7 separate regions of the Homo sapiens genome follow, and regions 1, 2, 3, 5, 6 and 7 are each linked to region 4. Evidence: fine-mapped expression QTL. A gene starts in region 4. Each other region holds a variant in brackets. All regions are shown on one strand. Distances are from middle to middle.

Region 1 (4,315 bases), 34 kb before region 4:
ACATGGTGAAACTCTGTCTCTACTAAAAATACTTTAGCAAGGCATGGTGGTGTGTGCCTGTAATCCCAGCTACTCGGGAGGCTGAAGCAAAATTGCTGGAGCCCAGGAGGCGGAAGTTGCAGTGAGTGGAGATCGTGCTACTGCACTCCAGCCTGGGCAAAAGAATGAGACTCCATTTAAAAAAAAAAAAAAAAATCACCTAGAGATGTATTTCTCAGAACATATCCCTGTCATTAAATGACAGAGGACCGTAGTTGTTTCCTAAAGGTTGGTTGTAATATGAAAGCTAAAAGCACAAAAAATTGCAATGTTTCATTAAAATCCATTGGTCTACCTTGTACATAGTTTTCAAATGAAAATTTTATATATATATATACAACATTAAGATTTTATAAAAATAACCAACATGCTCTGGGCGTGGTAGCTCACATCTGTAATCCCAGGACTTTGGGAGGCCAAGGCCAAAGGATTACTTGAGCCCAGGAGTTCAAGACCAGTCTGGACAACAGGGTAGAATCTCATGTCTCCAAAAATGTATGTATTTTTAAATTATGTGCTCAGGGTTGGGCAAGATGGCTCACGCCTGTAATCCCAGCACTTTGGGAGGCTGAGGCAGGCAGATCACGAGGTCAGGAGTTCAAGACCATCCTGACGACCAACATGGTGAAACCCCGTCTCTACTAAAAATACAAAAATTAGCTGGGCGTGGTGGCGGGCACCTGTGATTCCAGCTATTCGGCAGGAGAATCCTTGAACCCGGGAGGCGGAGGTTGCAATGAGCCAAGATGGCGTCACTGCACTCCAGCCTTGGCGACAGAGCAAGCCTCCGTCTCAAAAAAAAACAAACAGGCTGGACCCAGTAGCTCATGCTTGTAATCCCAGCACTTTGGGAAGCTGGGGTGGGCGGATCACCTGAGGTCAGGAGTTCGAGACCAGCCTGACCAACACGGTGAAACCCCATCTATACTAAAAATACAAAAATTAGCTGGGCGTGGTGGCGGGCGCCTGTAATCCCAGCTACTCTGGAGGCTGAGGCAGGAGAATCGCTTGAACCCGGGAGGCGGAGGTTGCAGTGAGCCCAGATCGCGCAATTGCACTCCAGCCTGGGTAACAGGGCGGGAGTACGTCTCAAAGAACAAACAAAAAAACCACAAAAATTCTCCAAACATTAAGAAACAAAAACAAACAAACAAAAAAACAAAATTATGTGCTCACTTTGGCAGCACACTAGAATACAAAGATTAGCAAATTAAATAATTTTTTTTTAAATTAGCCAGGTGTATTAGCACACTGTAGTCCCAGCTACTCATGAGGCAGAGACGGGAAGATTATTTAAACCCAGGAGCAGTGATTGCAGTGAACATTCATCCTACACCGCAGTACTCCAGCCTTGACGACAGAGTGAGACCCTGTCTCAAAACAAAAACTCCAACCCTTTTCTCGTAGTCATAAAGTAAAACTAGAAATAAAGTTATATCTTGCCTTCCAGTTTCTTGAAATTTCCTGAACCTAGTAAATTTTTTTGTGTTCTCATGTGAACGCAATCTAAAAATACCTACTGGCACAACTGCTGTGACATTTCAGCTTTTTTTTTTTTTTTTTTTTGAGAAGGAGTCTGGCTCTGTCGCCCAGGCTGGAGTGCAGTGGCGCGATCTCGGCGCACTGCAAGCTCTGCCTCCCGGGTTCACGCCATTCTCCTGCCTCAGCCTCCCGAGTAGCTGGGACTACAGGTGCCTCCCACCTTGTCCTGGTAATTTTTTGTATTTTTTTTTAAGTAGAGACGGCGTTTCACCGTGTTAGCCAGGATGGTCTCCATCTCCTGACCTTGTGATCCGCCCGCCTCAGCCTCCCAAGGTGCTGTGATTACAGGCATAAGCCACCTCGCATTTCAGCTTTTGAAAGCACTTTCCAAAATGCGTCCTTTTAAAGGTAGGAAACCAAAAAGAAACTGAGCTGTGAAGGTTTCAAATTAGTTTTTTAAAAAATAAATGTTTATTTCAAGTATGAAAAGTAATGTTTAAACGTTGTCCCAAAATTGTGTTCAGTTTCACAAGTATAAAATAAGACTTCTGAAAAAAAGTTTACAATTAGTTATAAAACACTTAAGAATATATTTTGACATTCACATCACAGTGGGCATTTTTGAAAAATAAATTTTGCTAATATAGCTTAGAAACCAAAACATATTTACAGTCCCATTTAAATAAACAAGTCCTTAACTGAGGAACGGTCCTCCCTCAAGATGGGTAGAATTTCAAATTGATTTGTATAAGCATTCCTTTTAAAATAATGGTAAATCTGGTTCAATAAAGTAGAAATTCAAATACCTTGTTTCCCCGGTGAATACCATCCAT[T/C]TCTTACACATGGCTACCCAAAGTTCTCAAGCCATTTTAATTAAGCACTTTCAATGAAATACAATGAAAGTGGGAACCAAACTCTGAGAAATCTTTATCATGGCATTTCTCATTAGTTTCAGCGAAATATTTTGAACAGAAAAGGAAAGAAATTTCCCAGTGGCAATTACAAAACCACATCTTGTAATTATTTTACAGGACTGCTACCAAGGCTTCTGCTTCTCTTCTCCAGGTACATCTGTTTGTAGGTTTGAAACATTTCTTTTGAATCTTTTACTGGGTTTTGTAGCATCTCAAATCCATCTGCACTGAAGCTTCTCTTCGAGAGTCTTGAATTAACATTATCTAAGGGAAATAAAAACTTTACTTACTTTATTTCTCAATGTTAGCTGTGATCAATATATAATCAAAATTCAGAGGGAAAATATATATTGGAGGGATAAAAAATTAAGGCAAGGAGTTAAGCAAAAGTTTCAGAACCATAGCTCTTCACTTATAGAATTGTAAGTTATATACACGTGACATCTTGCCTTTCTTTTGGGGGCTGTTTTCTACTCCTGCCTCCTTGCCCCATCCTCATTGCCCTGGGCTGTTCTGTTCTACCTTACTCTTGGCTCAATAAAATGTATCATTGCATATCATTAGTATGAATGTGATCTTTTAAACAGCTATGTAAATTAGCAATACAAAGAGTACAAATATGAGTCAGTCCCAAACAATACATGAAAAGGATAGGTTTCATATTTTGGTCTTGCCATGTATTGGATATTCTAAAACATGTCTATAGTTTCCTGTTTCTTGAGACCATTTCAGTGTTACATTAGCTTCAGTGTCCTTTTTTCATAATGACCCATCACCTATTGAAAATATGTTGAGGCTGGGTATGGTGGTTCACGCCTGTAATCCCAGCACTCTGGGAGGCCAAGGCAAGCAGATCACATGAAGCCAGTTCAAGACCAGCCTGGCCAACATGGCGAAACCCTGTTTTGACTAAAAATACAAAAATTAGCTGGGCAGAGGTTGCAGTGAGCCGATATCACACGACTGCACTCCAGCCTGGGTGACAGAGCGAGACTGTCTCAAAAAACAAACAAACAAACAAACAAACAGAATTGCTGTATGGGTATGCGAAATACACTTTCTACTGAATGTGTATCACTTTCATACCATCACAGTCAAGAAATCCTAAGTCAAACCACTGCCAAGTCAGGGACTATCTGTACATTTCATTCCTGCTGCAGCTATTTTCTTCTGAATAATGGGGTCTTGTTTTGTCTTTTTCTACCTGAATGGGTGGAGTATTCTGTCCTGTTAGTTCTTTAGATCTGCTGCAGTCTTCCACTTTTTCGTTTGCTTTCTTTCAGAATTAGTAACACTGAAGCCCCAGATGGGTCTCTAAGTTGCTTTCCAAGAAATTCTTGTCATTTCCTCTTCATCTCTTTACCCTAACTTAGGACTTCAAGTTTGCTGCAACCTTTGCTACTGAATTTAGACATCTGTTTCTCCTGTGGGTTTTTTTTTTTTTGAGACAGGGTCTTGGCTCTGTTGCCCAGGCTGGAGTGCAGTGCTGCATCAGGGCTTATTGCAGCCTCAACTCCTGGGCTCAGGTGATCCTCCTTCCTCAGTCTGCCAAGCAGCTGGGACCACAGGTGCGCACCACTATGCCCAGCTAATTTTTTAAAAAGTTATTTGTAGAGATGGGATCTCCTGATGTTGCCGAAGCTGGTCTCAAACTCCTGGGCTCAAGCCATCCTCCGGCCTTGACCTCCCAAGTGCTGGGATGACACACATGGGCCCCACACCAGGCCAGATGTATGTTTCTTTATAGCAGATTGGGAGTTCATGGCATTTTTCTCTCACTTCATAGTTGGTTCACTGTTCTCCAGCCTCTTTGTCTAAGGTATATAATTCACTATTTCCCAGAGATCCCTTCTCCAGAACCAGCTTCACTCGCCCCTAAT
Region 2 (4,601 bases), 22 kb before region 4:
GATTGACATTAGGTGTGACTTCTGAATTACCATTAGTTGACTCATTCTGCTTTTCCTTCTGAGTTAGTGGAAAAATCTTGGTTGATGTTGCTGTACTTGCTACTGGTCCACTAACATCAACTTTCAAAGCAGCAGTTGCCTTTGCATTTTCTGCCAATTGATTTTGTAAACTACAAACACTGCCTTCTTTAATAACGGGATACACTGTTTCAGGTAACACTGCAGGTGTTATTCCTTTGACAGACAATGTTTTGACCTCTGACAGAACTAACGGTGACACTACAGCTATCTGAAGTTCTGTTCCCTTTGTTATATTTATACCTGAAGACTCATAATTGTGCATTACCATCGACAAAGCTGTCTGCTGTGAGGGATTACTTATTTTATTCTGAGAATTTGAATTTCCCACAACTGAACAAGGACTCTTAACGTGGATGTTAGCAGGCTTTGAAATTCCAACTGCTGTTGTGTTTGTTCTGAGTTTATCACACTCCTTTTCTTTTGCAGTATCTGAAGGTTGCTTTTTCCACAGGGAAAGACAGGTTGCTAGCACTTCCATGGAACAGCTACTGTCACTTTTAGCAGGCATTCCTTTTGTTGAGGATTCTTGTCCACTGCAAAAGGAGTTGTCCAAAACCCTGCCACTTACATTAGAAGTACTTGGAGTTTCCATGTTCTTCAAATTCAGTTGGTTACCAGTCATTTGGGTATTTGGATTCATTTCACAACTGTCTGGTTTAGAATCCTGAATAGTTTGATTAGCATCTTTTAATACTGTCTTCTGAGTCTTACGTGCCTGTGAAAGCAAAGCGAGAAGTAGCATATTTTCATTTTGAATTTTTGATTTATATTCCTCAGTGGACATGGACTTGGGAACAGAAATTGTTTCACAAACTGCTGGTGAATTTTGCTCAACTTTGGTAACATTTTCTGATGAAAGCTGAGTATTCAATACTGCCTGGGTCATCTCAACAGCTGATGTCTTTGAAGTGAGAACTTTCACATCATGAGATGAGTCTGGCATTGGCCGCTTTTCAGAATAGACAGGATTTGGTAAAACAGAATCAACTTGGTTAAACCTTCTGCAATTGACTTCCTGAATGTCAGAATTCAACATACATTGAGTCTTATTTGTTTCTGCAGATTCCACTACTGTTGGTGTTTGTCTCTCTGCATTCTCTGGCATTACTGGAGTTATCTGGGGTCCAGACTGGATTTTGGCAGTTTGTTTTAGAGACAATTTAGAATTCTGAGCTGGTTCACTATAAGAAGTATTAGTCATTTTAATACAACCTGCTGCCATCAAAAGATCTTTATTGATTTTAATTTTCCTTGCAAGTTCTGAAAACTTCTGTTTTATCTCTACTAATGTTTTAATATCCCTTACTAGCTTTTCTTTTGCAACACTTGTGTCCAGTACTTGATTTGAAGTTGGATTGCAAGAATCCATTATTTTCTCTTCATTAGTTTGAGCAAGAGTCTGAACACCATCCACAGAAGATCTAATGGGACTGTTAAAAGGCTGTTTGCTGTTGGTATTTACTTTCAAGTTAGTGAAATTTCCAATTGTGCTGACATTTTCATTAGGGTTTTGCCACTGCTGTTGAAAGCTGGTCCTTATTTCAGATGACAGCATTTCTCGACTCTGAGGAACTTCCATAGACAAGTGTTTAGTAATATGCTGAGTACTTTGCAAAGGCTGGCTTCCATATCTACAGTTGTAAGGAGGAGGAGGAGGTCTTTTGTCAGTTTGCGTGGCATACTGCTGTGATGGTACAGCTGAGGTCTGCCTTGATGGTAAAGTTAATACAGAATTT[A/G]GAAGCTGACTATTTTTAACTTGCAATGATGTATGTGGTATAAAGTTTTGTTTTTGAATGGTAGAATCTGGTAAAAAGCTTTGTGGTGAGTAACGGTATAGCTTTGGAGGTGGTCTGTAATCTGGGTAAGTCAGTCCCTTAGATATACACTGTTGTGTCCAATCAACCTGTTGCTCTGAAAAAGACTGGTTAAGTCCCTGATTTCCTTGGTAAGCTACAGGAAGTCGTGTAGAATTAGAAGGGATCATCTGCATTTGCATAGAATAGGTATCTGATGTTATCAGTTGACTCTGTAGTGCCGGCATATTGGGTACGTTAGCTCCAAAATCAGTTTGATGAGATACAGTTGCCCCTATATGAGAATGCACAGGATTCCTCATTGGTGAGTTCAACCATACGTTTTGGGTAACTCCTGAAGACATCTGCAAATTGTGAGTTAGTTGTTTGGGTCCATTAACATTTGCATATGTTATTCTTTCTACTGAAGTGTGTGAGGCCACAACTGTCCCATTATGCATATCAGAAACAGAAATTTGTTGAGGATAATTTTGGATATTCAGCAGTGGCTGTGAAATTGGATTTGAATTACCGGGATACATGCATGCTTCTTGGTTACTTCCAGGATAGCTGAAAGAACTCTGAGATGTTGTGGTAATTTGGTTTATTAAAGACTGGTGCAAAAAAGGTGGCTGGCTTTTAGGATACAGTGGTGGTAATGTAGCACTCTTTGGTTTTTCATTCCAATTCATTGTCGGTTTGATATAGTAGCAGTGTATTACAAGTCAGTTATAAGTCAGTTACAAGTCAGTTGTCTGAATGTCAGGAATCTGTAAGAAATAAAGATATTTTATTAAAATGCTGTTTTGCCTAGATAGAATATCTAAGAAAATTAGTAGCTGACTGTCCATCCTAATTACTGAATCTTCAGAGCAGCCTCATCTTTAATTTGGGAAGAAGAGGAGCAATAGAGGATACAACAATAAATAAGGCAAGTGTCAATGAAATTTCTAACGTGTTTAACAGAAATTCATTCCACACAATGACAGCTAGCTTTTTGTTACATTTAAATGCCAATCACCTTCTGTTTTTACTTATTTTTAACAGACTTTCTTCTAAGTAATCCATGCTAACTGCATTTTTTAAAAAAGCTAACATGACAATAAAAATGAGAATTTAAAAAAAAAGGGAAGTTCAAACATATGGTTAAAAACATTCTCATTGTTCATTCGCAAAGTCTAAACTCCCCAGGGCTATTCAAGGTTACCTTAATGAACTCAGTAAATTTCTGGCATAAGGCCGGGTGCGGTGGCTCATGCCTGTAATCCTAGCACTTTGGGAGGCAGAGGCAGGTGGATCACCTGAGGCCAAGAGTTTGAGACCAGCCTGGCTAACATGCCAAACCCCATCTTTACTAAAAATACAAAAATTAGCGGGGTGTGGTGGTGCACACCTGTAATCCCAGCTACTCAGGAGGCTGATGCACAAGAATCACTTGAACCTGGGAGGTGGAGGATACAGTAAGCCAAGATCACACCACTGCACTCTAGTCTGGGTGACAGAGTGAAGACTCTGTTTCAAAAAAAAAAAAAAAAAAAAGGAAAAGAAAATTTCTGGCATAAGCAAACACTAATTCATAAATATCTTTTGTTATTCATAATGAACTCTGTATGCACATACCTGAGTCTATGCTACTAAGGTGACTTAAAGTGGGGGCCCCTAGATACCATCAGGATACAGCTGGTGGTCACCAGGAAAACCAAGTATTAGACGGTTGGAACTTTTAGTTCTAACCACTGACCTCCATAAAGTGGTGGGGGGAGCTGGAGATTGGACTCTATAAAAAGTCTTGGCTGGGTGTGGTGGCTCATGCCTGTAATCCCAGCAGTCTGTGAGGCTGAGGCAGGAAGATCTCTTGAGCCCAGGAGTTCAAGACCAGCCTGGGAAACATAGTGAAACCCTGTCTCTACTGAAAATTAAAAAAAAAAAAAAATTACCCCGTCATGGTGGTGCATGCCCGTAGTCCCAGCCACCTACTCAGAAAACAGAAGGCAGTGTAGGGAGGATCATCTGAGCCTGGGGGTTGAGGCTGCAGTGAGCCATGGTGGCACCACTCCACTCCAGCCTGGGTGACAGAGTAAGGCTGTTTTTTTTAAAAAACAAAACTCTTGAACATTGAGATGTGATGAGCCGAGCTTCTGGGCTGGTGAACAGAACACACTGAAGTGCTGGGAAGGTAGTGACCTCAGAGAAAGCATACCTTGTTTGCTTTATAGCCAGTTGGTCAGAAGTACAAACCTGGACTTGTGACTAGCTTCAAGTGGGGGCAGTCTTGTAGGACTGAGCCCTTTAACTTGTGGGTTCTGATGGTAACATCAGGTAGACAGTGTCAGAACTGAATCAAATCACAAGCCACCCAGTTGGTATGTGGAGAGAATTGGTCAGTTGGGAAAAAATTCCCACACATCTGGTGTCAGAAGTACTGTGGGGCCAGGTGCAGTGGCTCACGCCTGTAATCCCAGCATTTTGGGAGGCCAAGGTGGGCGGATCATGAGGTCAGGAGATCGAGACCATCCTGGCTAACACAGTGAAACCCCGTCTCTACTAAAAATACAAAAAATTAGCCAGGTGTGGTGGCAGGTGCCTGTAGTCCCAGCTACTCAGAAGGCTGAGGCAGGAGAATGGTGAGAACCCGGTAGGCGGAGCTTGCAGTGAGCCCAGATGGCGCCACTGCACTCCAGCCTGGGTGACAGAGCTAGACTCCGTTTCAAAAAAAAAAAAAAAAAT
Region 3 (4,601 bases), 220 kb after region 4:
AACTAGGAGAATGTAGATATCAGACTGTCTAATAAACTTGAAGATGCACAGCCTTTCTTTTCCAAAATGGTTACAACCTGTTTAATGCTCTACCAAAGGGTGAGTTTCCATTGGTATTGTCAAAGTTCCTTGAGAGTGTCAGATTGTTTTTCCTACTTTTACCATCCTAGTGGCTTGTACAGTTTTTTGGGGGGAGTTTTTTGGAGACGGAGTCTTGCTATGTTCCCCAAGCTGCAGTGCAGTGGCTATTCACAGGCATAATCATACTGCACCATAGCCTTGTTAGATATGAGTTCTAAATTTCTTTTCAAAGAATTAATGTCAGTATGTTCAATTATTTGCCTTCTACTTTTAAACTTAACTTCCTCGTAAAGCTACCTTTTTCGATTACCTACTCCACTCTGACTCATTCTGGTCACCTACTCCACCCTAACTCATTCTGATTACCTGCTACCTGCCCTGCCCTGACTCCTGCCAAAGCACACACCCTGTCATTCTCTTTAAATTAGCCAATTGGAATTAGTTTAGCCTGTGAGGTCTAACCCTAGCCAATAGGGGAACCACACAGCAGCAGGGGCCACGTGTGTCAGGGATAAGAACCCCTTCCCCTCCCTTATCCAAGTGTGCGCTCACCATTGCTCCATCTGTAAGGGCACACCCTTCTATTGAAGTACCTTGCCTTGCTGAGAATTAAAAAGAAAATTTTATATTCGAGTGCTATTTCTTTTGCGGCACCGAACCTTTATATATAACAACCTCAAACTCCTGGGCTTAAGTGATCCTCCTGCCTCAGCCTCTAAAGTAGTTGGGACTACAGGCTCCTGTTACTGCCTCTGGCTTTTGTACAAGTTTTTTTGTTGTTGTTGCTTGTTTTGTTGTTGTTGTTTTTTTTTTTAGACAGAGCCTTGCTCTGTTGCCAGGCTGGAGTACAGTGGCGCAATCTTGGCCCACTGCAACCTCCGCCTCCTGGGTTCAGGCGATTCTCCTGCCTCAGCCTCCTGAGTAGCTGGGACTACAGGCATGTGCCACCACACCCAGCTAATATTTTGTATTTTAGTAGAGATGGAGTTTCACCATGTTGGCCAGGATGGTCTCAATCTCCTGACCTCGTAATCTGCCAGCCTCGGCCTTCCAAAGTGCTGGGATTACTGGCATGAGCCACCATGCCCGGCCTTGTACAAGTTTTAACATGTGGAAGTTCGTTTTTTGTTTTGTTTTTTTGAGGCAGAGTCTTGCTAGGTCACCAGGCTGGAGTGCAGTGGCGCGATCTCGGCACACTGCAACCTCCACCTCCCAAGTTAAAGCAATTTTCTTGCCTCAGCCTCCCAAGTAGCTGGGACTACAGGTGCGTGCCACCACGCCCGGCTAATTTTTGTATTTGTAGTAGAAGCGGGGTTTCACCATGTTGGCCAAGATTGTCTCAATCTCTTGACCTCATGATCCGCCCACCTCCGCCTCTCAAAGTGCTGGGATTACAGGCGTGAGCCACTGCGCCCGGCCAACATGTGGAAGTTCGAACATGTATTTCCCTGGTTGATTAACAAGACAGAACATTTTTCATATGCTTTTGACCATTTAGATTTCCTCTGTGGGGAAGTGCCTGCTTAAGTATTTTGCTGATTTTCCAATTGTGTGTGTGTGTGTGTTTTCATCATATTGATTTGCAGTACCTTTTAAAATCTAGATACACATCCTCTTCAGTTACTTGTGTTACATATATTTTCCCCAAAATTAATCTATTAAAAATGCATATCAGATCCTGTCATGTCCTTGTTCAGAGCAACCCTCCAACATTCTCCCAATTGCACTTAGCTGTAACCAAATCTCTATGATTCTCAAGGCACTATGTGATCTAGTCCCTGCCTACCTCTCTGTCTTTATCTCCTTCCCTAAGCTTCAGCAACACTGGCCTTCTTTTCCTTCCTCAATTACGTGTGTGAGACAGACTTGCACTCCCTCTTTTGCACAGTTTGGA[C/G]AAGTGCCAGTTCTTAGTGAATGCTCAGTTGCACCTCTGCACTTCTGCAGGAAGTTGAAAGGCCCACCTGCAATGTTCATAACCTAGCTCTGATAAAATGTTTTCTGGCAGTTGTGCAAACCCAGGAAAAAAAAATTATAATGAAAATAACCCCACCCATAAAAAGGTAAGAGAAAATTAGGTAATATCTATTGCTAAGGCTTATATCCAATGGAAAAGCACCAATTTAAGTAGTAGACCAGATGTCACACATTAGGAGAATTAGTAAGTATAGAAGAAGCCCTGTAAGTCGGGTGCGGTGGCTCACACCTGTAATCCCAACACTTTGGGAGGCTGAGGCAGGAGAATCACTTGAGTCCAGGATTTCAAGACCAGCCTGGGCAATATATTAAGATCCTATCTCTACAAAAAATTACGATAAATAAAATAAGAAGAAGCCCTTCAGATGAGGCAAAGTCCCACCTAATCCTGGCTGCAGGTCTATTGAAGGCCACATATTCTGAGCAGCTTGAAGCCTAGGAAAACTGCATTCCTGGGAAAAAAACACCGATAGGAAATATCCCACCTGAAAATATAGGGTATTTCTCTATCTTCCATTAGAAGCTCGGTACTTAAGTTCCATACTGTTTTTTAGCAGATTAACAATAATTAAAGGTCTATTATGAAAATTTTTCACTGAATCTGACCCAGTCAAACCATTCTTATAATTCATATCAAGCTTGTCTTGTCTCAAGGTATTACATTACTATTCTTTTTTTAAATAGCAGCTTTATTAAGGTATGATTCATATACCATACAATTCACCCATTTAAAGTATATATTTTTAGTATATTCACAGAATTGTACAATTATCACCACAATCAATTTTAGAACATTTTCATCACCCCAAAAAGAAACTCTGTACCTCTAAGCAGTATATTTGCTCTTCCTTACCCACCCCACGGATTGCTAGTCCGCAGATTTCACAAGTCTGACAATTTCTTGGCAAATCTCAAGTAAAACATTGCCTCTCTAGAGAGACCACCTTACTACCCCTTTTAATTCTTCCTTGAATCTGTGGAGGATGGTGCTTGTTGTTTATAGTCATTCCTTCTCCCTTCCTCTTCTTTTTTAACAGAATCCTGATTTTGTTCAGGTATCAGATGGCCATGTGCTATAGGGGTATTCAGACTCATGCCCATCCTGAGGGATGAATTATGATTGATCTAAGTCATATCTCATTTCCCTTGGTAATGATTGGTTTAATCATAGCAAGTGCCATAGTACTGAGGATGCTGCTGTGAGTTCTTCTAGGCAAAGATTTTGTGTTCTTAACAAGAGAGATGTGAGAAAAATACAAGTACATGTTACCTGCCTCCAGGAACTTTAGTGTTCTCCTACCCTACCCTACAGTGTTATATTTCATTCAACAAACAACTGAGTGCTTAGTATGTGACAATGCATTGCTTATTTCTTAAACAGTGGCAAAAACAAATGCTTGAGAATCAGAAATATACTCAATTTTACTTTCTGTCTAACATGTCTAATGCCAATTCCAGCTGTCACATGCGTATTTCACAAGTAAAATGGAATAAGTCAAATAAGAGGCTCAAAGTAAAGCAATGAACTAGAATTTTCCTAACTTGCATCCTCAGTGCAAGGATGTATTGCTTGGACCTGCAGAGCCATCTTGAAAGCATGAGAGGAAAACTCAAGGGAATCACAGAGGTTCTGAGCAGGAATTATAATGTCATTAAGCCACTGAACAACCAACCCTGGAACTATCCTATTCTGACCTCCCTCCTCTTATTCTGACCTCCCTCCCTCCCCCGCTTCCTCTCTTCCTCTCTTCCTTCTCCTTCCTTCCTTTTCTCTCTCTTTTTTTTTTTTTTTTTTTTTTTGAGACAGTGTCTCACTCTGTTGTCCACTGGAGTGCAGTGGCACAGTCTTGGCTCATTGCAGCTTTGACCCCCCCCAGGCTCAAGCGATCCACTCACCTCAGCGTCCTAAGTAGCTGGGACTACAGGCATGTGCCACCACAGCTGGATATATATATATATATATTTGGAAGAGATGAGGTTTTCCCATATTGCCCAGTCTGGCATTCTGACTTTTCATGTGAGATTAAAACCTTATTTTTTTCTAGGACATAACCAAACACAATAATATTTGCAGTGGAAGGCTTTGTGGTTTGTGGTGGAAAGACTCTTAGTTGGCCCCACGATCCTTGCCTCCCCTTATGTGATCCTTTCCCCTTAGTGTGGGCAGGATCTGTGGCTCGCTTCTAACTGAAAGAAACAGTAAAGATGATGGGATGTATGTGATTGTGTGTACATGATTGGGGTCATGTTACATAAGATGGTAGCACCCATCTTTCTCCCCCTCCCCCAGTTTAGCTTTGAGGGCGCAGATGGCCATGTTAGAGGACTCTGCATGGCAAGAAATACAGGCAGCCTCTCAGAGCTGAGGGCAGCCTCCAGCCAACAGCCAACAAAAAACTTGAAGCTCTCAGTCCTACGACCTCAAGGAACTGAATTCTGCCATTAACATGAGTGAACTTGGAAGTGAGTCCTTCCCCATCTGAACCCAGGTGAGACTGCAGTCCCTGATGACAGCTCGATTGTAGCCTTTTGAGACCATAAGCAGA
Region 4 (4,601 bases):
GTGGTTACAGGGACCATGGTCTTAATCATTAGGTGAGACTTCCTAACACACTTTGTGGTTACAGATGAAAGCCCTGGACATGATCACTTTGGCTGCACGGGAAGCATCCTCCCAGAGTGGTGCTCTGCGCCACATTCCCCTATGTGCCACCAACAGTAATAAAATATAATAAAAACAATCAAATAAACACAGCACAGACAGAAGCAGACCTCTGCCCAGGTAACTTCCACCACAATTCCCTTACCAAAGACCTCTTTCCTTATTTTGCTAAGATTAACAACTGATTTTTCAGTACTATGCCAACAACATTTCTTCTCAAGCTTTGCTGTCAATTCCATTGTGACCCACAGTTTAATTTAAAACCGATGTTGATTCACTGAGCTAGTAATTTTATTCGGTAATAGGTGAATTACTCCATAGTTGAGTGTGAATAACCGCCTGGTTAAATCAGGGCGGGTTTCTTAGAGGTGATACACTTACCGTTGAGCACAACTTTACTCTTTAATTATCGTGTACATTCCCATTTCCCTCCAAACACGTCAGTCCCTCTCCACACAGTGTTTACTTCTTTGGTCCTAGGGACAGCAAGAAACATTTTATAATAAAAGAGCACATGCTAATGTGTTTACTAGATATGACACTGCTGTGCAAAACTGTTTTCTTTTATGGCTGCACTGAAAGCATGCTAAGTTTACTGAATTCTTATTAAGTGTCCTAAGTAACAGAAATAGAAACTAGGTCTGGCCTGAAAATACCATTCACTTAAGTTAGAATTTATGTGCGCTCCTCTAGGTCCGCTATTGTAGTATCACTGCAAAACAATAATACTTTATCTCTGCACTTGTCTTTATTGGATTAATATTAAACAGAAAAAAATCCGACTGCACAGGGGAAAAAACCTAAAACCTTAACATGCATGCACATTAACAGTGACTGAAACATGATTAAAGCTAACACATTTAGCAGAAAAATGCAATCCCCAAACAAGCTCTGCGGCCCGCCTACTGAAATGCACCCGCCCGCCACTAAATGAAAATGCGCCTCAAGCTCATACACATCCTTATGTTAAGACAGTATGCACTCGATGTACTACAAATAAATTGTTTTCACGGAAATGATTCCCCGAAAGTTTGCTGCTGAACTCAGGACCCTAAGGACGTTTGCTTAGGGAATCCGTGTCCCTCGAGAACACCTAAGATGGGTATGCGTTTGTGCATTTAAAAATGCCTCAAGGAACTATTGCTGAGGAACAGAAACCATCGCCGGCGCAGAAGCGTTCGCGGACCACTTGGAGATAGATGCCAGTACAGCAATTCTGTTCCAGGAGGCTTCGGCTTAAGAGGGCCGGGGAGGAGGAGAACCCTCGGGAAATAGCAAAAAAAAAAAAAGATTTTTCTTTTTCACTCCAGCGACAGGAAAGCCTTAAAAACATAAGCAGCTCTCATACCCACCCGCCTCACCAGCCGCGCCTCGCAGTTCGACAAAATGCGTCCTAGCCTTCGCCACTCGCGACCTCTACCGCGCAGAGCCAGGCAATGAGGGAAAACAGCCAGCGAGGCCCGCCCTCCGGTGCAAGGCTCGGCATCCGCGGAGGCCCAGGGCCGGCCCCGGTGCGGCGGGCAGAAGCAAGCGCGGCGGCCCGGCCCAGCTCCGGTGGGCGGACGGCGGGACGCGCGAGCCGGCGGGGCCCGAGGCCCGGGTTCCGGGGCCGCCCGCGACTGCGTCTTTGCCGCAGAACAAAAGCGCTCTGCGCCGCGCGCAGGCCCGGACCGCGAGTGCCTCTGGCTCCCGGCTCCCGGCCCCCGCCCCGCCCGGACCCCGGAAGGCGGAGGGACCTCGGGGTGCTCGTCTCACACTTACCGACAAAGGGAAGAGGACCACCCCGGCAAGCGGGGAGAAAACCGGCGGCCTCCCGGGCCCCAGAGTTTAAGTCAAGTGGGGTCCGCCTCCAGGGGCGGGTCGAGGAGCCAGGCCCAGGATCCAGGAACAGCTACGCTCCGCCTCACGCCCGAGGCGGTGGCTGCGAGGGCCGCGCCGCCGCGGTCCTAGTGCCACCAGAGAAGCCGCGGACCCGGCCCGCAGATAACACCCGGGCTTGCAGAGCGCTTTCATCTGCCCGACGCGGAAATCTCCTGCAGCGATCTTCTACCTTCAGCGTGCATCCGCAGCACCCAGAGGGCACGTTAAAGAGAGATTGAGAACCACCAGCAAAACTGCTGATTCAGTAGGTTTGGGGTGGGGCTGAAAAATGTGCATTTCTAACAAGTTCCTGAGACCGACTGTTGCTGCTGGCCTCAGGACCAATTTTTTCTATAAAGCGCATGGAAGTCAGAGTGCACCCAAGAGATTGTTAACCCTTAAAAAACAGAAAAAAAAAAAAGAAATCAACAAGTTAGAGGCAAATAAGTGTGAAAGAAAGTGGATAGTCTATTTGGGGATTCTGAAAGTCCCTGAGGAAAGTTGACTTTGGAGACCAGATCACGAAGCACGACCTCTTAATTGCCGACCTTTTGTTATAGATTAACTCCCTTATTTTCTTGTTCCCAGCTCAGACCAGATGGCATCTGAGATAAAATACGCATTGAATAAGATAAATGACCGCTTGACTATTACATCCTTAATGTGGAATGTTAAATAGACCCTTCCCAAAAAGAAACACTGCCTTGAACCAATCAAATTGCTATGCGTTAACCTTCTATGGAAAATGTTGACATCCTGTTAAGCTTCCCAGACCCTGCCTGTGTAAACGACCCTCAAACTTCTCCCTTTCGAAGCACTGACCCCCATCTTTTGGAGTCTGTGTCCTACCGGGTCGCCATCCTCAAACTTTGCACTCAAATAAACCAATATTTAATCATATTGCCCGAATCTCATTATTAAGGTTTACGTAAGCGTTTACTTAGTAATGAAGGTTGCAACCAGGATGGCAAATCAGAGATTGTGCCACTGGAGAGGGGCAAGGGAGCTTATGTTTATAGGAATTTATTTGTTACATAAATTGTCAGATTAGTTCATTGGTGAATTAAACGAAGAAGTCTTTAGTCATTACTAGAAGAGTGCGTTTGCGTCTGTCAGAAACAAAACAAAAAAACTACATACAGAATATTCTTTCTTTTTTGGGGGGGGGACGGAGTCACGCTCTGTCGCCCAGGCTGGAGTGCAGTGGCACGATCTCGGCTCACTGCAAGCTCCGCCTCCCAGGTTCACGCCATTCTGCTGCCTCAGCCTCCCAAGTAGCTGGGACTACAGGCGCCCGCCACCATGCCCGGCTAATTTTTTGTATTTTAGTAGAGACGGGGTTTCACCATGTTAGCCAGGATGGTCTCGATCTCCTGACCTCTTGATCCGCCCGCCTTAGCCTCCCAAAGTGCTGGGATTACAGGCATGAGCCACCGCGCCCGGCCAGAATATTCTTAAAGATTGGGGGTGGCCAGGTGTGGTGGCTCAGGCCTGTAACCCCAGCACTTTGTGTCACGCGCATCCGTGTGAAGAGACCACCAAACAAGCTTTGCGTGAGCAACAAGACTGTTTATTTCACCTGGGTGCAGGCGGGCTGAGTCCGAAAAGAGAGTCAGCAAAGGGTGGTGGGATTATCTTTAATTCTTATAGGTTTTGGGAGAGGCTCCGCGGAACAATGTTTTGCGGGCAGGGGGTGGATCTCACAAAGTACATTCTCAAGGGTGGGGAGAATTACAAAGAACCTTCTTAAGGGTGGGGGAGATTACAAAGAACCTTCTTAAGGGTGGGGAGAATTACAAAGAACCTTCTTAAGGGTGGGGGAGATTACAAAATACATTGATCTGTTAGGATGGGGCAGAAACAAATCACAATGGTGGAATGTCATCAGTTAAGGCTATTTTCGCTTCTTTTGTGGATCTTCAGTTGCTTCAGGCCATCTGGATGTATACGTGCAGGTCACAGGGGATATGATGGCTTAGCTTGGGCTCAGAGGCCTGACAGTTTGGGAGGCTGAGGTGGGTGAATCACTTGAAATCAGGAGTTTGAGACCAACGTGACCAACATGGTGAAACCCTGTTTCTACTAAAAATATAAAAATTAGCCAGGCGTGGTTGTGGGCACCTGTAATTCTCAGCTACTCGGGAGGCTGAGGCGGGAGAATTGCTTAAACCCAGGAAGCAGAGGTTGCAGTGAGCCGAGATCACGCCACTGCACTCCAGCGTGGGCCACAGAAAGAGTCTGTCTCATGAAACAAAACAAACAAAAAAAGATTGGGGATCAGGCGTGGTGGCTTATGCTTGTAATCCCAGCACTTTGGGGAGGATCACTTGAGGCCAGGAGTTTGAGAGAGCAGCCTTGCCAACATGGTGAACCCAATCTCTACAAAAAATATACAAAAAACAAAAAAAATTAGCCAGGAGTGGTGGCATGCGCCTGTAGTCCCAGCTACTTGGGAGGCTGAGATGGGGGGATCACTTGAGCTTGGGAGGCAGAGGTTGCAGTGAGCCAAGATTGAGCCACTGAACTCCGGCCTGGGTGACAGAGTAAGAGCCTGTCTCGGAAAATAATAATAATAATAATAATAATATTGAGACCAGCTTTCTTGGGTTGTGTGTTGTTGCAAAAACGGTTGTGTTAGATAT
Region 5 (4,601 bases), 310 kb after region 4:
CTGTCATGGCACTGGTGGGAGTGTAGCAGTGAGGACGACTGGAGATCACTCTCGTTGCCATCTTGGTTTTGGTGGGTTTTGGTTGGCTTCCTTACTGCAACCTGTTTGATCAGCAAAGTCTTTACAGCGACCTCCTATCTCATTCTGTGACTAAGAATACCTTAACTTACTGGAAATGTAGCCCAGCAGGTTTCAGCCTCAGGTTAACCAGCCCCTATTCGAGATGGAGTTGCTCTGGTACAAAGGCCTCTGACAGCAGGGCTGAGTGCAGTGGCTCATGCCTGTAATCCCAGCACTTTGGGAGGCAGGTGGATCACTTGAGGCCAGGAGTTCGAGACCAACCTGGCCAATATGGCAAAACCCCACCTCTACTAAAAATACATAAATTAGCTGGGTGTGGTGGTACGTGCCTGTAATCCCAGCTACTCAGGGGGCTGAGGCAGGAGAATTGCTTGAACTTGGGAGGTGGAGGTTGCAGTAAGCTGAGATCATGCCATTGTACTTCGCTACGGAGAGAGATTCTGTCTCAAAAAAAAAAAAGAAAAGGAAAAGAACACACACATTTATCCATTAAGTTCACCATCTTTCATGGGTGCTCCAAAACAATTACAATAGAAACATCAAAGATCTATGATCACAGATCACCAGAACAGATAATCATATTAGGTTGGTGCAAAAGTAATTGTTGTTTTGGCCATTACTTTTAATATTAATGAAAAAAATTTAAATACTGTGAGGATTACCAAAATGTGACACAGAAACACGAAGTAAGCACACTCTGTTTGAAAAAAAAATGGCACCAATAGACTAGCCCGACACAGGGGTACCACAAACGTTCAATTTGTAAAATTCACAATATCTGTGAGGCACAATAAAGCCAAGCACAGTAAAAGGAGGGATGCCTGTGAGTGGAATCATATGCAGTCCTTTGTGACTGACTCTTTCATTGAGCATAATGTTTTCTTCATTCATGTTGTAGAATGAATAAGTACAGTCAGACCTCTGTATCTGTAGGTTTCACATCCGTAGATTCAACCAACCGCAGATTGAAAAAATTGGGGAAAAAAATTTGTATCTGTACTGAACAGCATGTATAGACTTTTTTTTCTTGTCATTATTTCCTAAAAATATAACAACTATCTCCAGCCTGGGCAACACGGTGAAACCCCGTCTCTACTAAAATACAAAACATTAGCCCGGCATGGTGGTGGGCGCCTGTAATCCCAGCTACTTGGGAGGCTGAGGCAGAGGTTGGCATGAGCCAATTGCACGCCACTGCACTCCAGCCTAGGTGACAAAGCGAGACTCCGTCTCCAAAAAAAATACAACTATTGGTCGGGCGTGGTGGCTCATGCCTGTAATCCCAGCACTTTGGGAGGCTGAGGCAGGCGGATCACAAGGTCAGGAGTTCAGGACCAGCCTGACCAACATGGTGAAACCCCGTCACAGGGCTGGGCGCGGTGGCTCACGCCTGTAATCCCAGCACTTTGGGAGGCCAAGGTGGGCAGATCACAAGGTCAGGAGATCGAGACCATCCTGGCTAACATGGTGAAACCCTGTCTCTACTAAAAATACAAAAACTTAGCCAGGCGTGGTGGTGGGCCCCTGTAGCCCCAGCTACCTGGGAGGCTGAGGCAGGAGAATGGCTAGAACCCGGGAGGCAGAGCTTGCAGTGAGCCGAGATTGCGCCACTGAACTCCAGCCTGGGAGACAGCGAGACTCCGTCTCAAAAAAAAAAAAAAAAAAAAAAAAGAAACCCATCTCTACTAAAAATATAAAAATTAGCTGGGCATGGTGGTCCATGCCTATAATCCCGGCTACTCAGGAGGCTGAGGCAGGAGAATCGCTTGAACCTGGGAGGCGGAGGTTGCAGTCAACTGAGATGGTGCCATTGCACTCCAGCCTGGGCAAAAGAGCGAGACTCCATCTCAAAAAAAAAAAAAAAAAAACTATTTACATCATATTCAACATTATAATCTACAGATGATTTAAAGTAATTATGCAAATACTACATCATTTTATATAAGGAACTCAAGCATCCATGGATTTTGATATCCTCAGGGGTCCTGAAACGAATCCCCTGTGGATACTGAAGGACAATTGTACTACATTCCTTTTGTGGCTAAATAATATTCCATTATGTGAATATTCAGTACTATATTGTGTTTCTCCATTCATCTGTGATAAACATTAAGGTGGTTTCCACTTTCTGGCTATTATGAATAATGCCACTATAAACATTAATGTACACATTTATGTGGAGACATATGCTTTCAATTCACTTGGGTATATACCTAGGAATGGAAGTGCTGGGTGATATAGTAACTCTATGCTCAAATTATTTAGGAATTGCCAGACTGTCTTCCAAAGTGACTGCACAATTTTACATTCTCACCAGCAATTTATGAAGGTTCCAATTTCTCCACATTCTTATCAACACTTGTTTTTT[T/G]TTTGTTTGTTTGTTTTCTTTGGTTTTGTTTTGAGATGGAGTCTCCCTCTGTCACCAAGGCTGGAGTGCAGTGGCGTGATCTTGGCTCACTGCAACCTTCGCCTCCCGGGTTCACGTGATTCTCCTGTCCCAGCTTCCCGAGTAGCTGGGATTACAGGCACCTGCCACCACACCTGGCTAATTTTTGTATTTTTAGTAGAGACGGGGTTTTGCCATGTTGGCCAGGCTGATCTCGAACTCCTGACCTCAGGTGATCCACCCGCCTCAGTCCCACAAAGTGCTGGGATTACACGCGCCCAGCCCCTAAATTACCTCTTTAAGCTTCAAAATAAGCATAGGATGTAGGTATACTATTATGACCTCTGTTTTAGAGGTAAAGAAGTGAAGTCACAGGAAGGTTCAGTAACTTGCCTGAGGGCTCATAAATAGCTGGCAGTAGAGTTGGGATGACACACATGTCGTCTGGTTCCAGAGCTGCACTTAAACACAGGACGTAGACTCGGTAATGAGAAAGAGGAAGCTATTTCAAGCACGAGCCAAAGGCAGGGATTTACAAGTTCATTGCAGAAAATAAACAGCCCAGTCTGACTACGAAGAGCACTCACCGGAGCCAGGTTGCGGGAGATGAAATGAGGATAGGGTGAGGCAGGCTGGTGGAGGGCCTGGACTGTGAGGCTTAGAGGCTTGGATTCCATTAAGAATATTAATTGGGAGTCATGGTTGGTTGGTGTGTGGTCAAGGGAACAATAAAACAAAAACAGCAGCTCAGTGGCTGTCGACATGTTAATGGCCTTTGAAAATAAAGTATACAAACAATGAGTGGCAGGAAGGCGAAAAGAAAGCTTTCTCATCACCAAGCTCAAACTACTCTGCATTATAATTACACAATATAAAAAGATGGAGGATCATGCCTGTAATCTCAGCACAAGATCCTTAGGGAGGCTAAGGTGTGAGGACTGTTTGAAGCCAGGAGTTTGAAACCAGCCTGGGCAACATAGCGAGGCTTTGTGACAAAAAATACGAAAATTCCAGCCTGGGCAACATAATGAAACCTGGTCTCTACAAAAATTGTAAGAACTAGCTGAGCATGGTGGTGCACACCTGTCATCCCAGCTACTCAGGAGGCTGAGGCAGGAGGATCACCTGAGCCCAGGAGGTTGATGCTGCAGTAGCCATGTTCAAGCCACTGCACTTTAGCTTGAAGGACAGAGCAAGATGCTGTCTCTAAGAAACAAAACGAAACAAAAAAAGGCTGGGCGAAGTGGCTCACGCCTGTAATCCCAGCACTTTGGGAGGACAGGGTGGGCAGACCACGTGACATCAGGAGGTCAAGACCAGCCTGGCCAACATGGTGAAACCCCATCTCTACTAAAAATACAAAAATGAGCTGGGCGTGGTGTCATGTGCCTGTAATCCCAGCTACTTTGGAGGCAGAGATTTGAAAATTATTTGAACCCGGGAGGTGGAGGCTGCAGTGAGCCAAGATCATGCCACTGCACTCCAGCCTGGGCGACATTGCAAGACCCTCTCTAAAACACAACAAAACAAAACAAAACAAAACAAAAGATGGAAAGATTGTAAGTTATCCTTACCAAACTTCTCTGTCCCCTTCAGACACATTTAGATGTTCACATCTATAATTAGCCATTGTCAATGGTAATGAGATTCTAACAACCGCGTATCGCCTGTGTGCAATGTGCTGTGTACAAAGTTTTTAATCTCCACAGCAACCAGTTCAGAAGAGGAAGCTGATGCTTGGGCGGGTAGGGGGAATGTTATGTCTCTTTCCTTTTCTCTGGAAAAAAACAACAACTTTCATGTCATCCAGGCTCTCTCTCATCAAACATGAATCTTCTCTACAGCATCTGAAGGCCTCTAGGATTCTTCCTATTAAGTCACATCTGCCTCTGAGCAGGGGGACAAGGCAGCGTTGCACAAAGCCTGTCTCCACCTCTCTTAGCCCACAGTGACCCCAGGAGCTAAAAGAACATCAGAGAAAAACATCACTAATATCTCAAAGATACTGAGTGCTGCTTAGAGTTGCAGTGGCAAAAATTTTTATCCATGTAAAAATGTAGTCCAGGAAAGATTAGTTTGTCTTCCCCTGCTGGACTCCAGCCTATTTCTACCTAATTATTTTTTCATGTGCCAA
Region 6 (4,601 bases), 550 kb after region 4:
ATTCACCCTGTTTCATTACTTTTTTTGGAGCATCAGGAATAACCAAATTCTTATTTACAGATATCTATGAGTCTGCCACAAGGACATAATAAAGCCTGAAAGAGTGAATAAGTGTTAAATGCTTTATCTTACCACATTGTCCGTGTGCTTGTGTTGTAATGGCAATTATGATGTGAGACTAACTTCATGATTCAGATGGAACCTTCAAAGATTTAATCAACATCAATTGTATATTATCCATTGCTCCCTTTAAGTATAAACCTTTCTGTGCCCAGTACTGTTCACTCTTTACTTCTTTTCTAGTCAGGGTTATCCTTAAAATCTACATCTTTGCTGTTGCCACTATTCTTTAGGCATATTCAAAACATGAGTGAGATCAAGACTGATGTTGGACGAGCTCGGGCGTGGATAAGACTGTCTCTAGAAAAGAAGCTCTTGTCCCAGCATCTTAAGCAGTTGCTTTCTAACCAACCACTCACCAAGTAAGATACCATCTTTGATACATTTCTGTTTCTATAATCCATGTGCATACAAAACAAGTTGCATAAACTGACAAACTGGCTTCTTCAGTATGAAGTGCTGTATCCTGTGCACATGCATTCTTCTTTATCTAACAGGCGTGTGCTTTGAAAACTGTTTTGATGTAATACTTGATCGTTTTGGGGGGACACACCAAATTTAACAGCCAAAGGCCAGATTGCAGTTGGGCATGGTGGCCATTGCCTGTAATCCTAACATTTTGGGAGGCCAAGGTGGGAGGATCACTTGAGTCCAGGAATTCAAGACCAGCCTGGGTAACATGGTGAAACCCCGTCTCTACAAAAAATAAGTTAGCAGGGCATGGTGCCGCACACCTGTAGTCATGGCTATTCAGGAGGCTGAGGCAGGAGAATCACTTGAACTTGGGAGGTGGAGGTTGCAGTGAGCTGAGATCATGTCACTGCGCTCCAGTCTGGGCGACAGTGCAAGACCATCTCAAAAAAAAAAGGCCGGATTGCTCTGCCAGAATCAGGCAAAAAGCTGGCTAGTTCACACAAGCTGACAGTAACATCCAAAAGATCGGATGAATTTATATAAACCTTATATTATTTTGTATAAACCTTATATTGTAAAACCTGTATACAGGTTGTATACAGATAAAACCTGGAGTAAAAAAAGAAAGAAATAATAAAGTTCTGTGAGGAGGTCCCAGTAAAGGGCTTCTTCTGAGAGCCTTGCATTCACTAGTTTAGGGCAAGGGTTCCCAGCCCTTGGGCCATGGACCAGTACTGGTCTGTGGTCTGTTAGGAACCAGGGCTGCACAGCAGGAGATGAGCCGAGGGCAAGCAAGCATTACCGCCTAAGCTCCGCCTCCTGTCAGATCAGCAGCATTAGATTCTCAAAGGAGCATAAACCCTATTGTGAACTGCGCATGTGAGGGATCTAGGTTATGTGCTCCTTATGAGACTCTAATGACTGATGATATGAGGTGCAACAATTTTATTCTGAATCCACCTCCCCCTCCCCAGCCCCTGCGACAGCCATGGGAACATTATCTTCCATGAAACAGGTCCCTGGCGCCAAAAAGGTTGGGAACCACTGGTTTAGAGCCGGGAAACCAGTCAAGTACATGTCAATTAATTGTTAACTTTTAATTTCTTCTGTTTACTCTATCAAGAAACCCTCTTCGAGGTCAGGTGCAGTGGCTCACACCTGTAATCCCAACACTTTGGGAGGCCAAGGTGGGCAGATCACTTGAGGTCAGGAGTTCGAGACCAGCCTGGCCAACATGGCACAACCCTGTCTCTACAAAAAATAAAAAAATTAACCGGGCATGGTGGCAGGCACCTGTAATCCCAGCTACTTGGAGGCTGAATCAGGAGAATCATTTGAGCCAGTATTGGGCCACTGCACTCCAGCTTGGGCAACAGAGCGAGACCCTGTCTCAAAAAACAAAAACAAAAAAAAGAAGCTGTCTTGGATGAAATATATTGCCCTTATATTTACATTAGTGCTAATTTGAAGGCTAAGGACTTTGACTTCTAAGGAGCAAAGTTAGGCAGAGAATTCAACAAAGACCTCAAACAAGATAGCCTATTAGAGTTCCAGTGCTTTTTGTAGTTTTGTATTTGTATATATCACACTTGGATTACATACCCCCTGGAGCATTTTCAGATGAGTTTTAATGTCCAAACAGTAGGTTTGATAAAGCATGAAGTGTTGCATATAGCCTGTGAATCTGACCTTGTTTTCTTAAAACTGGCGTGGTTTTTTTTTCCAATTACAAAAAGTTATTGGCTGGGCGCAGTGGCTCACACCTGTAATCCCAGCACTTTGGGAGGCCGAGGCAGGCAGATCATGAGGTCAGGAGATCGAGACCATCCTGGCTAACATGGTGAAACCCCGTCTCTACTAAAAATACAAAAATTAGCTGGGTGTCGTGGCGCATGCCTATAATCCCAGCTACTTGGGAGGCAGAGGCAGGAGAATCACTTGAACCCAGGAGGCGGAAGTTGCAGTGAGCCGAGATCGC[G/A]CCACTGCACTCCATCCAGCCTGGTAACAAAGCGAGACTCTGTCTCAAAAAAAAAAAAAAAAAAAAAAAGGCCGGGCGTGTTGGCTCATGGCTGTAATCCTACAGTTTGGGAGGCCGAGGCGGGTGGATCACCAGAGATCAGGAGTTCGAGACTAGCCTGACCAACGTAGAGAAACCCCATCTCTACTAAAAATACAAAATTAGCCAGGCGTGGTGGCACATGCCTGTAATCCCAGCTACTTGGAGGCTGAGGCAGGAGAATCGCTTGAGCCTGGGAGACGAGAGGTTGCGGTGAGCCAAGATCGTGCCATTGCACTCTAGCCTGGGCAATAAGAGCAAAACTGTCTCAAAAAAAAAAAAAAAAAGTGATTTATGCTCATAGTGGCCAAAGTACAAAGAGGAAAATGATAATCACTTACAATCCTGCTATATAAAGAACACTAAGTATTTCACATTTTCTTCTGTACTTTTCTTCTATGCATGTTCTCTTATTAAGATACACTATATGTGCGATTCAATATCATCCTTTTTATTAGCTTAACAGTGTACCATAAACATTTCACCGTATCAGAAGAGTTTAAAATCTGAAGTCTGAATGCTTGTGTTCAAATATTGCCTTCTCTAGTTAGTGTTTGAATGACCTCGGACAAAATATTTAACTTTCCTGTATCTCTCTTTTCCCCATCTGTAAAATGACACTAGGCTGGGTGTGGTGGCTCACTCCTGTAATCCCAGCACTTTGAGAGGCCAAAGTGGGAGGATTGCTTGAGCCTGGGAGTTCAAGACCAGCCTGGGCAATATAGTGAGACCCCATCTCTACTAAAAATAAAAAATTAGTTGAGTGTGGTAGCGTGCACCTGTGGTCCCAGCAGCTTGGGAGGCTGAGGTGGGAGGCACACTCAAGCCCAGGAGGTCAAGGCTGCAGCGAGCTGTTACTGCATCGCTGCACTCCAGCAACCTGGGTTATAGAACGAGACCTCATCTCAAGAAAAATAAATAAATAAATAAATAATAAAAAGGCACTAATAGACTTACCTCATAGAGTGAGAATTAAATGTATTAATACCTATAAAACACTTGGGAAAGTGCTTAAATGTAAGTGTTTAATGAAATCTTTGCCCCATTTCATCTGTTTCTTTAGGACTGAATCCTAAAAGTAAAATTGATGAGTCAAGGGGTATGATTGGTTTAAAGTAATTGTTACCTGAATTGCTTTCCTGAAATTTTCAGTCTCACCAACTGTGAGAATGGCATTCATTTCTTCCTTGTCAACACTGGTCATCACTTTTAAGTCTTTATTAGTTTGATAGATAAAATAGATGCATTTTTTCCTTAATTATTAGGTTAAAAGTGTTTTATTAACTGTTTATATATCCATTTTTATGAATTGAAATAGAATGAATCTATTTTTTCAAGATTAAAGGTGTTTGTCTAAGAGGAGCTATTTATTTTTAGTCAAGGCTTAATGAGGGCCAGCCCCAGTGGCTCATGCCTATAATCCCAACATTTTGGGAGACTGAGGCAGGAGGATTTCTTGAGTCCAAGAGTTCAAGACCAGCCTGGGCAATATAGCGAGACCCCATCCTGGAAAAAAGACATAATGGGAAAGAAACAAAAGAAAAAAAATGGCCGGGCATGGTGGCTCATGCCTGTAATCCCAGCACTTTGGGAGGCCGAGGCAGATGGATCACCTGAGGTCAGGAGTTGGAGACCAGCCTGGCCAACATGGTGAAACCCCATCCCTACTAAAAATACAAAAATTAGCCTGGCGTGGTGGCACATGCCTGTAATCCCAGCTACTCATGAGGCTGAGGCAGGAGAATCACTTGAACCCAGGAGGCAGAGTTTGCAGTGAGCTGAGATTGCACCATTGCACTCCAGCCTGGGCAACAAGAGAGAAACTCTGTTTAAAAAAAAAAAAAAAAAAAAAAGACATAATGAAAAGTACATGATACTACTGTCTTGGTTTTTTTTTTTTTTCTTTGATACTACTGTCTTGTGCTTGTCTTACCCTTTCCTAGGAAGCTTTATAAGCGATATGCTTTTCTACGTTGCGAAGAAGAAAGAGAGCAGTTTCTTTACCACCTTC
Region 7 (4,601 bases), 250 kb after region 4:
CATGCCTGGCTAATTTTTGCATTTTTTGTAGAGACAGGGTTTCACCATGTTGCCCAGGCTGGTCTCGAACTCCGGAGCTCAAGTGATCCATCCGCCTCAGCCTCTCAAAATGCTGGGATTACAGGTGTGAGCCACCATGCCTGGCCCACATTTTAGAATATTATAAAGTATAAGGGTTTGTTTTTTTCCCTCCAGATAACCAAAATGTCCATATGTAATTATCAGAGGAACCTGCCCCCAATATTTCAATGTAGGTTCTTTCTATTTTTCCTAAGTGTCGGCTGGTCTGAGAAATAAAGAGAAAGAGTACAAAGAGAGGAATTTTACAGCTGGGCCGCCGGGGGTGACATCACATATCGGTAGGACTGTGATGCCCACCTGAGCCACAAAACCAGCAAGTTTTTATTAAGGATTTCAAAAGGGGAGGAATGTACGAACAGGGAGTAGGTCACATGCTTTAAAGGGCAAAAAGCAGAGCAAAGATCACATGCTTCTGAGGAAACAGGGCAAGGACAAAATCAGAACTCCTGATAAGGGTCTATGTTCAGCAGTGCACGTATTGTCTTGATAAACATCTTAACAGAAAACGGTTCGAGAGCAGAGAACCAGTCTGACCTCAAATTTACCAGGGCTGGGGTTTCCCAATCCTAGTAAGCCTGAGGGTACTGCAGGAGACCAGGGTGTATCTCAGTCCTTATCTCAACCGCATAGGACAGACACTCCCATAGGACAGACACTCCCAGAGTGGCCATTTATAGACCTCCCCCCAGGAATGCAATTCTTTCCCTAGGGTCTTAATATTCCTTGCTAGGAAAAGAATTTAGCAATATCTCTCCTACTTGCACGTCTGTTTATAGGCTCTCTGCAAGAAGAAAAATATGGCTCTTTTTGCCTGACCCCGCAGGCAGTCAGACCTTATGGTCGTCTTCCCTTGTTCGCTAAAATTGCTGTTATTCTGTTCTTTTTCAAGGTGCACTGATTTCATATTGTTCAAACACATGTTTTACAATCAATTTGTACAGTTAATGCAATCATCACAGTGGTCCAGAGGTGACGTACATCCTCAGTTTATGAAGATAATAGGATTAAGAGATTAAAATAAAGACAGGCATAAGAAATTATGAAAGCATTATTTGGGAAGTGATAAATGTCCATGAAATCTTCACAATTTATGTTCCTCTGCCATGGCTCCAGCTGGTCCCTCCATTTGGGGTCCCTGACTTCCCGCAACATGTAATAGTTCCTAAAACATCTTCTACCATTGTCTCAGTTACTTCTCTTGTGTCAACCAGAGTCGTGGAGACTGAAAATCCAAGCAAAAAGGTTTATTGGTGGTTTTAGAATTGAATTCAAGGAACACAGATTCCAGAGGCATCTGAAATCATGTCCTAACTATTTAATTCATATGTCCTAAGAGATATATGAGGTCTTTTAAAGAGAAAGGTGGGAGAGGGTTATCAAACAATTCATTAGTTAGAATAAGGGTTTCTAGGCAGAAGTCCTTGATTCAGGGGTTTGGAAAAAGTTCAGTCATCAGCATAGCATAGTCTTTTCAGAAGTGGCAGCAATTTCATCTGCAGCATCAGCAAGTACGTTCTACAGTCAAGCAGTTGCAGAATGACATTCAGGAACAAAATGGTGTTGTTCTGGTCAGCTCCCATTAGCCTTCCATACACACTTGTCTTCATGGTACCTGTACCCTTGACCTCCGTGTTTTCAAAAAGTTTAAAACTTTTTGATCAAGACTCACAATAAGAAATATACGTTACATTGTGACTGTAGTACACAAACCACACTTAGGTGTAACAGTATAATGTATAGTACATTTTGGTCTTTTCTATTTAATTTTATTCTATTTAGTCTTATTTTACTGAAAAAATATTGATCACAGTCTGCTAAACTGATTTTGTAATCCATTCATGGATAATGACCAGTAGTTAAAAAATCACTCTTCTCATCTATACTGTTCTTTTTTCAACTGCTATATTTTTCATATTTAATATTTCCAATTCACCTTTTTATGGTTTCGTTTTATCTTATTAATCTTTTCTTATTTCTTTTAGCATATTATTATGCTTATTAATATATTTGGCCTCTCTGTTCTAATTCCTCTGCTCCTGATGGAATCAGTAATCTTTGTTTTTCTTTTGAAATAGTGGTGCTCTCTAGATGTCTTGTTTTGGCCTGTGAACATATCTCTGTATACTCTCTGGTAGTGGTAAGAGTAAAGGAGGCCAGACCCAAGTCTGTTTCGGCCCTACTAAGCTGACATAGGGGGTGGAGGCCTGGAGAGGGGCTGGAGTGATGAGCTCCAAGGCAGAGAGCCCCAAGCACTAGAAAAAGATGGTTAATCACTCTTTGTTCTGCTAAACAGCCCGTGAGATTAGGGCTTAACCTTCAGCCTCTGATTTTAAAGGTTATTAAATAGCAGAGTAGATAATTTCCTTCGATACTACTCCTGTGTTATCTTTTGTATTTTTGCTATTTGTGTTTCAAAAAGTGAAAATGCTAGTTAGTAGTTTCTACACTACTTACATTTAAATATTGTCTTTGGGTTTGCAGCCACCACCACTCTGCAGCCATCACCATCTAGTCTGCAGAGACTAGAACTGCCAATTGCTGTTGGGGGTGAGCGGCATCTATCCAGGCTGGTGGGATGGTGGTAAAAGAATTTACCAAGACAGTTGTAGGTAAAGAAAGGCAGATTTTTTTTTTTTTTTTTTTTTTTTT[G/TG]AGACGGAGTCTTGCTGTTTCACCCAGGCTGGAGCGCAGTGGCATGATCTTGGCTCACTGCAACCTCTGCCTCCCAGGTTCACGCCATTCTCCTGCCTCAGCCTCCTGAGTAGCTGGGACTACAGGCGCCCGCCACCACACCCAGCTAATTTTTTGTATTTTTAGTAGAGACGGGGTTTCACCATGTTAGCCAGGATGGTCTCGATCTCCTGACCTTGTGATCTGCCCGCCTCAGCCTCCCAAAGTGCTGGGATTACAGGCGTGAGCCACCGCGCCCGGCCAAGAAAGGCAGATTTATTAGAGAAAATATGAAAATACATTGCAAGGGAGCAACGGGCAGAACCAGCAAGAGAGGACCCAACTGCCAGGAGACAAAGGCTTGCTGGGGATTTTATAGAATGGAACTTGGGCTGATTGACAGCACCAAGGTAGGAGGGAACTAACTTGCATCCTTCTGTCAGCCGAGGTGTTTGATGATAGATCAAAGTGTTTGGTGATAAGCAGGAGGTTTATGAGTTTTGTATGTTGTCTGCACAGGAGGGCTATATGTTCTGGGCCATAAAGAAAGGCAGACCTATAGCTTATCTGCTTCTTCTTTTTGTTTATATGTTCTGGACCATGAAGAAAGGCAGACCTGTAGCTTATTTGCTTTCCCCTTGTCCTGCCAGCCTGACTCCTTTTCCCTAATTAGGACTCCACAATTGCTCTGACTTCACTTCACCTTCTGCCTAAAGCCTGTAATCAAAAGGAAGCAAGGTCTGATGATAGCACTCCAGCATATGTTTTTCTGTGGTTTTTGCTTGTTTGTTGTTTTTTTTTTGAGACAGGGTCTCACTCTGTCACCCAGGGTAGAGTGCATAATCATGGCTCACTGCAGCCTCAACCTCCTGGGCTCAGGTGATCCTCCCACCTCAGCCTCCTGAGTAGCTAGGACTACAGGCACCCACTACCACATCCAGCTAATTTTTGTATTTTTTTTAGAGACAGGGTTTCACCATGTTGCCCAGGCTGGTCTTGAACCTCTGGGCTCAAGCAATCTGCCCACCTTGGCCTCCCAAAGATCTAGGATTATAAGTGTGAGCCACAGTGCCCAGCCTACATGCTAGAGCATGTGACTAACCCTGTGACTTTACATTGGAATTGCACTTTAACCTGTTTTTAATGTTTCTTCTGCATTAACCTGATATATCTTTATTATAATGCTTTATTTTCTTCATGTTAGCTTGCATTTGAACATAGATACCTTAGTGGTGTAGTTTGCTTGGCTCTGTGGAAGTAGAATAATATCTCCACGTTCTTATTGTTGATGGTTCTGTTGAAGTATGTAATGTTATATGTGACTCATAGATGAACCATAATGACACTGTAGAAAAATGGTGGTTTTCTTCACTTTTCCACCATCCACATTTCTTACTATCCCTTTAGCTTATCCTTCAGTGACTTAGGTTTTTGTTTGATGGCAATCCTTACCATTTTTTAAGCCTAATTTTAGCTGAATTTAAAAGGAGGGGTGAAGAGGGTGAATGAGATAGAAAAACAAGACATGATTTTTCTGGGTACTCTCCCTCTAGTCTCCATCCTTAACAAGAGTCTTGCTTATGACATTATTCAAAAAGCCAGATACAACATCCATTACAAAGTGACACACATCTTTGGATGGCTGTTTTTGAAGTATTTCATAAATCTTTTTATACTCTCTGGATGGAGAAGGCCTTTTTAAACATGATACTAAAGTTGGAAACCAAGAAAAAAAGTTGGATGGATTTGATTACATAAAAATACAGACTTCCTTATGGCAAGAAGAAAAAAAAAAAAGAAACAAAGTCAAAAACTTGGAAAAATATTTACAGTATGTATGAAAATCTAGGGGC

Direction of the effects. Positions count from the first base shown, and alleles are read on the strand shown. Sizes are in standard deviations (SD) of each study's normalised expression. Not every link is listed here.
For the expression in NK cells of the gene that starts at base 1,937 in region 4, G is the low allele of the variant in region 7 and TG is the other (small effect, 0.36 SD a copy in Gilchrist 2021).

Evidence for each region. PIP is the estimated chance that this variant, and not a neighbour inherited with it, causes the effect. A credible set is the group of variants that fine-mapping cannot tell apart.
Region 1: its variant is the best candidate, but not a certain one, in a credible set for the expression of RESF1 in B cells (Fairfax 2012, PIP 0.86).
Region 2: its variant is the best candidate, but not a certain one, in a credible set for the expression of RESF1 in whole blood (TOPMed, PIP 0.68).
Region 3: its variant is the best candidate, but not a certain one, in a credible set for the expression of RESF1 in whole blood (TOPMed, PIP 0.90).
Region 5: its variant is the best candidate, but not a certain one, in a credible set for the expression of RESF1 in whole blood (TOPMed, PIP 0.68).
Region 6: its variant is the best candidate, but not a certain one, in a credible set for the expression of RESF1 in whole blood (INTERVAL, PIP 0.79).
Region 7: its variant is the best candidate, but not a certain one, in a credible set for the expression of RESF1 in NK cells (Gilchrist 2021, PIP 0.79).

The regions. Positions count from the first base shown.
Region 1 is chr12:31,990,762-31,995,076 of GRCh38, reverse strand. RESF1 (retroelement silencing factor 1) reads right to left here. Exons shown (of 6, transcript NM_018169.4): 6 at 1,970-2,699. The coding sequence ends at 2,542. Among named protein-coding and RNA genes, the nearest start is that of RESF1, 34 kb to the right of the region's middle. RefSeq lists a silencer at 1,025-1,189. The variant T/C (reference allele first, on the strand shown) is at 2,355.
Region 2 is chr12:31,978,921-31,983,521 of GRCh38, reverse strand. RESF1 (retroelement silencing factor 1) reads right to left here. Exons shown (of 6, transcript NM_018169.4): 4 at 1-2,644. The coding sequence starts at 2,566. Among named protein-coding and RNA genes, the nearest start is that of RESF1, 22 kb to the right of the region's middle. The variant A/G (reference allele first, on the strand shown) is at 1,818.
Region 3 is chr12:31,740,454-31,745,054 of GRCh38, reverse strand. No RefSeq gene overlaps it. Among named protein-coding and RNA genes, the nearest start is that of AMN1-AS1, 13 kb to the right of the region's middle. RefSeq lists a silencer at 1,879-1,968. The variant C/G (reference allele first, on the strand shown) is at 1,976.
Region 4 is chr12:31,956,751-31,961,351 of GRCh38, reverse strand. It overlaps RESF1 (retroelement silencing factor 1), which reads right to left and starts at 1,937. Exons shown (of 6, transcript NM_018169.4): 1 at 1,861-1,937; 2 at 481-575. LOC105369725 (a long non-coding RNA gene) reads left to right here and starts at 2,048. Exons shown (of 2, transcript XR_931503.2): 1 at 2,048-2,224; 2 at 2,548-2,859. RefSeq lists a silencer at 1,627-1,966 and enhancers at 3,019-3,812, 3,816-4,315.
Region 5 is chr12:31,645,709-31,650,309 of GRCh38, reverse strand. All of the region lies in intron 1 of LOC124902913 (a long non-coding RNA gene), which reads left to right. It also overlaps a transcript of ETFBKMT not described here. Among named protein-coding and RNA genes, the nearest start is that of ETFBKMT, 12 kb to the left of the region's middle. The variant T/G (reference allele first, on the strand shown) is at 2,450.
Region 6 is chr12:31,409,317-31,413,917 of GRCh38, reverse strand. DENND5B (DENN domain containing 5B) reads left to right here. Exons shown (of 21, transcript NM_144973.4): 13 at 354-482; 14 at 4,534-4,601. Among named protein-coding and RNA genes, the nearest start is that of LINC02387, 42 kb to the right of the region's middle. The variant G/A (reference allele first, on the strand shown) is at 2,513.
Region 7 is chr12:31,704,441-31,709,041 of GRCh38, reverse strand. The region is part of intron 2 of AMN1 (antagonist of mitotic exit network 1 homolog); the gene reads left to right. Among named protein-coding and RNA genes, the nearest start is that of AMN1, 22 kb to the left of the region's middle. The variant G/TG (reference allele first, on the strand shown) is at 2,731.